Linked DNA regions of Homo sapiens. The protein of the gene in region 1 interacts with the protein of each later gene in a biochemical or structural test. Each region holds a gene or a part of one and is shown on either strand. Other genes may lie near its edges.

The links.
Region 2: the proteins of YWHAB (region 1) and RIPK2 form a complex in vitro, tested with the Homo sapiens proteins (one study listed by BioGRID).

What each region holds. Positions count from the first base shown.
Region 1 is NC_000020.11:44,905,052-44,909,788, forward strand, and holds the end of YWHAB (14-3-3 protein beta/alpha), read left to right. Parts: coding exon 1-80; intron 81-949; coding exon 950-1,045; intron 1,046-1,330; coding exon 1,331-1,387; 3' UTR 1,388-3,481; downstream 3,482-4,737. UniProt on the Homo sapiens protein: Adapter protein implicated in the regulation of a large spectrum of both general and specialized signaling pathways. Binds to a large number of partners, usually by recognition of a phosphoserine or phosphothreonine motif.
Region 2 is NC_000008.11:89,781,816-89,785,315, reverse strand, and holds part of RIPK2 (receptor-interacting serine/threonine-protein kinase 2), read right to left. Parts: intron 1,267-3,500; coding exon 1,177-1,266; intron 1-1,176.

The DNA of each region.
Region 1 (4,737 bases):
TTGGTCTGGCACTAAATTTCTCAGTCTTTTACTATGAGATTCTAAACTCTCCTGAAAAGGCCTGTAGCCTGGCAAAAACGGTGAGAAAGACCCTTTGTGATATCTAACCATAGCAAAACAGTGCTTGTGTTATTAACTTCATTTTATTCCTGAACATACTCATTGTCTTGGACTTTTTTTGAAAGATTTTCTGGGGGTGGGAGTGTATCTTTTATGAGATAAATACAGATCTGTTACTTTTTTAATTCATTCTCAATACCTTCTGCTGACTTTGTTTGATTACTGTTTTTTGCGGGTGGTTGTAGAAAGTTCCAGGTGAATGTAGTTAGTTGTTTCTTACCAAGCTTTGGGCCTTGGTTATACATTGTCATTCTCATGCCAAGATTTGAGGTTATAGTTGTATAAAAGAAATACACAGCACATTCTTGTTGTGTGTTGGATTACCTTCCATATTCTTCCTTTGGCCTTCTCTACATATTTTTTATAGTCCCTCAACATGCACACAACTTTTTAAAAACATTTTTATTCGGGAAAGGTGCCTTAAAGTTCCGTCACTTAAATCAGATTTAGTGATGTGAGTTTCCAGACATTTTGAGTTTTAGTTTAAATAAATAAATAATTTTAAATAGAAGATTGCTAGAAAAGTCTTTGGTAATTAAAAAATCACACGCGTTTGCCCAGAATGACTGTGCTAGGGTTAGCAGTAATACTGCTTAGTTATTAGGTACAGCAAAGTTCTTACCTTGGAGTTTCTGTCATTGTTGGTTGGTGCTTTGTAAATATGCCTTATACTTCTGCTGGAAACAGCTAACAGACAGGGTAATAATAGCCTAGGTTCCCCCAAAGTACTGTACAAGAAGATAAGTTATATTCACCTAGCGGGAAAAAAAGTGGGCTAAACTAGCTCCAGAGAACTTGTGAATTCTTTGCTAAAGGCTCTTTGTTTTAGGCATTTGATGAAGCAATTGCTGAATTGGATACGCTGAATGAAGAGTCTTATAAAGACAGCACTCTGATCATGCAGTTACTTAGGGACAATCTCACTGTAAGTACTACTTCCACAGGGTTTATAGTCTCTTTCCTATTCACCTACTTAATAATTCACTGTTATCTTCAAGAGGGGATTTGTACCATTAAATGTAGTTACAGTTTTAAGTTGTTAAATTTGTTATAAATGACTGCTGAAGTTTTGACCTTTGCAATCATCCCTGTCTGCAGTGACACAGGAATAATTTTAAACTGTCGAGTGAGATAAGATTATACATACTGGGCCACTTACCTAGGGAACTTTTAGTAGCCCTGCTTTGATTATACTTCCTTTCTCTTGCAGCTGTGGACATCGGAAAACCAGGGAGACGAAGGAGACGCTGGGGAGGGAGAGAACTAATGTTTCTCGTGCTTTGTGATCTGTTCAGTGTCACTCTGTACCCTCAACATATATCCCTTGTGCGATAAAAAAAAAAAAAAAAAAAAAAAGAGAATCGTACGTCGACTTTCGATTTTTCACAGCCTCAGCCTAGGAAAAATGGTTCATGGGATAAACAGCTGGTATTTGTATCTAAAACTCAGATTGGTCACATAAATGCCACGGCATTCCGAAGTTTTGATTTTGATTAACATTGACAGGATTACTGTGTGTTTAATTTTTTAAAAACTGAACACTGTGATTATGGGGTTTTGTAATTTAGCAGAACTCTTACTGGTAGAAAAAATAGACCTGAATTATGTGTAACTTTTTGGAAGGTTTAATCTGATATCAAAATAATCATTGAAATACAATTCCATTGTAAAGTTGTACAGAAAGTTATAGAGATTATATTGTGATGCTGGAACTTGGAGTGAGACACACATCATTTGGCATTTGAGTTGAATGGTAATTCACAGTAATGCTGCCGTTGTTCGGGACTTAAAGACACTTGACCTGTTTGGGCTGTTGCCACTTAAAAGTTCATGACCACAAATGTCCACAGTGTCTTCCTCTGAGGAAACTCGAATCCTGAAATGGAAATTCTTTGTGGCAGATAACTGGCTTATGACACCTTGAAAAGTTCAAGTGCTCATATAACACACCACACTGAACCCCCTTTCCTACAGCAATATGTTCACTATGTTACCAATTTGCAACTTGTGCTTCAATAGTGGAATCTACTTTCATTGTTAACACTGAGCTAAAGAAAAAAAGCCGTGTGTTTTATGAATGACCTTATCTGTTTCCTGGATAATACCTTTAAGAATAATGTCCTGAGTCAGGCGTGGTGGTGCGTGCATCTAGTCCCAACTATTTGGGAGGCTGAGGCAGGAGGATCGCTTGAGCCCAGGAGTTTAAAGCTGCAGTGCCCTGTGGTTGCACCTGTGAATAACTGCACTCCAGCCTGGGCAACATAGCGAGACCTCATCTCCAAAAAAGAAAACAAAAAACAAAAAAAGGAATGATGTTCTGTAGAGATGGCCTTTCACTTGAGGAGTACTCAGTTTTCAGGTTCTTCCTAGCTCGGGGCTTTTAAATTTTGAAATCTAAACATTCTTTCCCACCATCCTTTTTGACTGTTGACCTTGGTTTTCTCTTCTAAGTTTCTGTCCCTCTGCTTCCTTACTTTTTTTCCTTTTTGAATTCTATCTTTATCTGTCTTTTGTTCACTTTTTAATGCTATATATGGGCAGGGGTGAGAGACATTACTGAGCACCTTGGTGAGCAAGCCTGGCTTTAAAGATTGGAGAAGAGCTTCTGGCACCAGAACCCTGTCTTCCTCCAGTTCTCAACACGGTGTTGCTCTTCAGTCATACCGGAATCTGAATCAAAAAAGTATTTTTAAATATCCATGATTTCTCCCTGTATTGAGGCTAGCCCTGATCATGCTTTTTGTGCCTGTCACCAGGTCTCCCAAGTGCACTCATCCAGGTCAGTGCTCAGATGTGTTTAAGGAGACCCTATATTCAGGGAAGTTGCGTGAACACTGCAGTGGGGAGAATTGAGAATAGTCAGGCCTATCAGTCTCACAGAATCACCCCTCTACCTTTGATATTCCACTTAGCTGTAGAGTCCATCTGTTTGTCCATCTGCTGAAATGAGAAAAGAAAAATTTATGCACTGATTTAAAACAAACCAAAAAAAAAGAAAAAAACAAAAAAAAAAATCCCTCCTTTCTAGCTGAACAAAAATGTGCAGTTAATACTTGGCGCTTGAAAATGCAGTAGTGAATGTGGAACCAAGCCTGTCTGTATATCTGGTAGCTCTTTTCTTGCTTTGTTTTTTCTTACCAGTATTCTGCCTAACGTTTGCTTCTGTGATGGTTATATTGCCTAGCAAGCACACCCGTGGTTGTGAAAATAGTATAGCAAAAAAGAAAAATCCCCGGTTATTGATGTACTAGATTTGTGTATGTCTTTTAAACAGTTCTAGTTTCACCTTACACAGAATAATCAGGAAAAGTGTAAAAATTCAAAAGTGAAATAAAAATTTTATCAGTTAGTTGCCTGTGAATTGATGTGTCACCACCATCTCTGTTGTTACCAGACCTAGCTAACTATTCTGATCACACTTATTTTTAACTCTGTTTTCTTTAAAAATAGGCAAACAGTTTTATTTCATTATTTAGGACCAGAAGTCAAGGTGTTATCCAGGGGAAGAAATTACCATTAATTAAACAGCCTCTTTACACCCGTTACTTGATACCTCTCTACCTTCCACAACAAACCATGCAGGTATTAGGTCCTCTTTAGTGACTTCTAAGATTTGGTATGGACAGTTATTTTGCATTGTATTCGAGCCCACCATCCCTTCCCCATTTTTTAACTCTGAGATACAACCAAGCCAGTGAAATAGGTAACCTATGGTTGCATAAGTCTTGGTCATCACCAAGCTGGCGTCTCACCTGTCCTCACACTGTATGGTGGCCTGCAGAGCTGGTTCCTCACAGGATTTGCCCCTTCTGAAAACATCCACATTACCACAAGGAGAGAAAAATATCAGGATAGAGGGGTCTTTTTTAGCCCAAGATTAGAATTAGTGCTTCCTTGCTACTCTGAGGCTGGACAGCCAGATGGGCACCTTCTGTCCCTAGTTTAGGAGCTGTTCCACCTGTTGAAGCCACACTCAACCAAAAGTCAGTGGGGGCCTACCTGCTCTGTTGGATCAGTGAGACCAGGAAAGTCCTATCAGAGGAAAAGTGAAGTATTGGTGCTCAGTGGAGTAGTTGTTTTGTTTTTGTGTTGTTTTTAATGTCCCTATACCACAGATTGACGCTGCAAGCTCAGATTCACAGTCTTGCTCTGTTTAGGTCTTGCTCTGCTATTAGTTCCCAATTGTCCGCATTTAGGCTGAGCCACAAGTAACTCAGTGAACCTCCCTGGTGTAATGGATGTGTAATGGCTTAGCAGAGGGACAGGGAATATCCCAGGAAAAGGGGTCTTGGTAATATGAGCCAGTACCAAGAAAGGCCTTAGTGGTCTCCAGTTCTCATGTCTCAAAGCCATTTCCATCCTTGGTGCGAAACGGTGGGACTGGATCAGGCTCTCTGGAGGAAGACATCTTCAATGGAGCAGGGTAAAATTCTCTACACAAGCTTTGAAACAGTGGCCTGTTCGGAATTCCGTTTGTGTGTGAAACGCAAAAAGCGCGGTTTGGGTCTCCTTTCATTCTTGTCAGGAGGGAATCATTCCCATTTTACAGAGAAGGGAAACGGGTTCAGAAAGATGATCATCTGTTCCGGGGTTAGAACTCAGTCCCCTGCGTCCTTT
Region 2 (3,500 bases), on another chromosome or scaffold:
TTTAGTAGAGATGGGGTTTTGTCATGTTGGCCAGGCTGGTCTCGAACTCCTGACCTCAAGTGATCCACCCACCTTGGCCTCCCAAAGTTCTGGGATCACAGACTTGAGCCATCGTGTCCACCCATGAAACAATGTTTTGACTGCGACCTATCATATGAGGTCAGATGTTGCTATGGTTTGATATGGTTTGTTTGTCCCCACTAAATCTCACATTGAAATTTGATCCCCAATGTGGTGGTGTTGGGAGGTGGGGCTTAATGGGAGGTGTTTGGGTCATGGGGGAAGATCCCTCATGAATAGCTTGGTGCCATTCTAGAAGTGGTGAGTGGATTCCTGAGAGAGCAAGCTGTTAAAGAACCTGACTTCCTCATTTTCACTCTCCTGCATCCTGTCTCACCATGTGATTTCTCTGCATAGCTCGCTCCCCTTCTACTTTCCAACATGAGTGCAAGCGGCCTAAGGTCCTCATCAGATGCAGCTGCCCAATCCTGGACTTTCTGGCTACCAGAATTGTGAGCCAAATAAACCTCTTTTCTTTATAAATTACCTACTCTTAGGTATTTCATTATAGCAACGATAAACAGACTAACACAGGTGTGGAATTTTCCACTTGTGGCATCATGTTGGTGTTCAAAGTTTTGGACTGTGGAGGGCTTTGGATTTTTGGATTAGGGATGCTCAATCTATGTTACTTTTCTAATTCTGTAAAATGAACATACATATACATTCTTAAAAGAAATTACTAATTCAGACTAATATAAGTCTGATTGAATGCTACTAAAGAGATCTTTCTTCCTAGGCAGCAATGTTTTCCTCTCATTAATTATTATAAGAGGTAAGAACAAGGTAGCATAAATACAGTGTTAAAACTGTAATCAATGATTTGCCTACATAATACCCTGGGATATCATTTATTGTATAAAACAATGACAGGGACAGAACTCAATGTCAAACAAAGAAGCAATAATTGTGATTTGATGGGATGAACAATGAACTGAGAATCAGTACAGCTGGGTTTCAAGTTGGAGATTGACATGAGCTACCAAACAAATCCTAAAAGCTCCCTGGGCTTTAGTTTTCCTTCTATAAAAGAAGGGCTTAGACCAAATGATTTTTTCAAATTCTTCTCACATTTTGAGTTTAATATAACCTTTTTTTTTTTTTTTTTTTTTTTACCTCTTGTGGACCATGATTTACAGGTATGTTCAGAGATAATTCCATTTTCTTCTTGTCACATAGGTGAATGGCACTTGAAACACTCTGTAACTGTAATGAATACATAAATATATATACACTTTAACTGGAGATGATTAGGAAATTATAGAAGTAAAATACAATCTAACACATTTTATATGTTTGTACAAAATACATGGAAAGAAAATATAAAGAGTTGAGAATATAACATATAACTGAAGGAAAAGACAGTGTAGAACGGGAAATAACTTTAGAAACACAGACTTTGAATCCTGGCTCATATTAATTGGTTACCTTCTCTCAGTGTCTCAGAGCTTCATCCTCGAAATCTAACAATTACCTACATGCAGGATGGTTCTAGAGATTGAGCTTATAAATATGAAATATCTGGTATAAACTAGGTACTTAATAAATTTTTGGGAATTTTTGGGAGTGTGATTGTATGTCTATCTATAGTTAAGTATTTACCACATTTTAGGCACTGTGCCTGTAAGTACTATTATTATTTTCATTTTATAGTTAAGAGATTGAGGCTTGGACTAAGTAAAGGAGGTAGAGTGTCAATAATGGAATGGCAGGGCCATGGAGCCAATCAGATGTGATTTAGAGACCCACATCTGTTTGACGTGAGACATTAGATTTAATCTCAGTTTACTTATCTGTACACTGGAGATAAAAATTCCTATTTTGAAGGATTACTGTGAGGAAAATGAAAAGTAATATATGCAAAAAGGCCCAAACATTACTTGTAAGCATTCAATAAATGGTAGCTGCTGAGTAGATGATTTACTTAAATACTATTCTTTTGTGTTAAAATTAAGTGGTTTATTCCTGTCTATATAAGCTAGGCTTGGATTAGTTTCCATCACTACTCAGTGATTTAAATACAAACCTATCAATCATTTTCTTCCCCAGACCATCATAATGTCAACTACTCTTCAGAATTTGGAAAATGGTGAATTCACACCCAGCCATCCATTATGCACATTTATGACTGCATACTCCATTTACATGGCTAAGGAACTTCAGAAGGAAATTACTCTTATTCATCTGTGTATATAATGTACCTAGCACAGGGCGTTATACACAGCAGTTCAATAAACATCTATAAACATATTGTTATATGACCCTTTAAAATGAGTTTTTGGTTTTATCTCTGTTATGTGAGGTTTTCCTCTGCTTATAAAATTTGCCAAAACATTTCTGATAATGCAATATCCTTGAATTAGTAACAGTTTTTCATAACTGATCAGTTATGATAATTCAAATTACTTGTGAATTAGTGAATCTGTCCCTAAGAAGAAATGAACAACTGAAGAAAAACTATGTTTATTCAGTGTTTATTATTCAAGATTTAGAAGCCAATTACCTAGGAAAACATAAATTACGGGAGCTGATTCCAAGAGTTGAAAAAATGTAGGAAACTCAAAACAAATTTCCCTACTAATTTTGGCTTTCAGAATTTTTTTTTTTTTTTTCTTAAGAGACAGGGTCTTGGTATGTTGCCCAGGTTGGACTGGAACTCCTGGGCTCAAGAGATCCTCCTGCTTCAGCTTTCAGAGTAACTGGGACTATAGGCATGTACCATCACACCTAGCTCAGAAATTTCTTTATGAAGAATCTTATTTAATTCGTGTTCTACTGTTGTCCCTGACATTAGCTTACTGTGTGAGATGTACATAAGTGACTAACTTCCCTATACGGTAGTCCCCCTCTTATCTTGGTTTCACTTTCCGCAGTTTCCATTACCCTTGCTCAACTGTGGTTTGAAAATATTAAATGTAAAATTCTAGAAATAAACAATTCATAAGTTTTAAGTCACATGCAGTTCTAAGTAGTATGATGAACCTACAGCTCCATTCCACCCAGGATGTGAATCATCCCTTTGTCCAGCATATCCATGCTGTATAAGCTACCACCCTGTTAGTACCAGAACAACTGTCAGGATCACAGTGCTTGTACTCAAGTAACTTTTTTTTTTGAGACAGGGTCTCACTCTGTCACCCTGGCTGGAGTGCCAGCTCACTATAGCCTCTACCTCCTGGGTTCAAGTGATCCTCCTATCTCAGCCCTCAGTAGCTACGACTACAGGCATGTGCCACCACACCCAGCTATATTTTTTGTTTTGTTTTGTTATGTTTTTTTGCCACATTGCCTAGGCTGTTCAAATAACTCTTATTACTAATTAAGTCAACTCTTACTACTAATGGCCCAAAGTGCAAGAATAGTGATGCCAGAATATTGTTAGAATTGTTCTACTTTATTATCGGTTATTGTTAATATATTACTGTGCCTATCTTATAAAT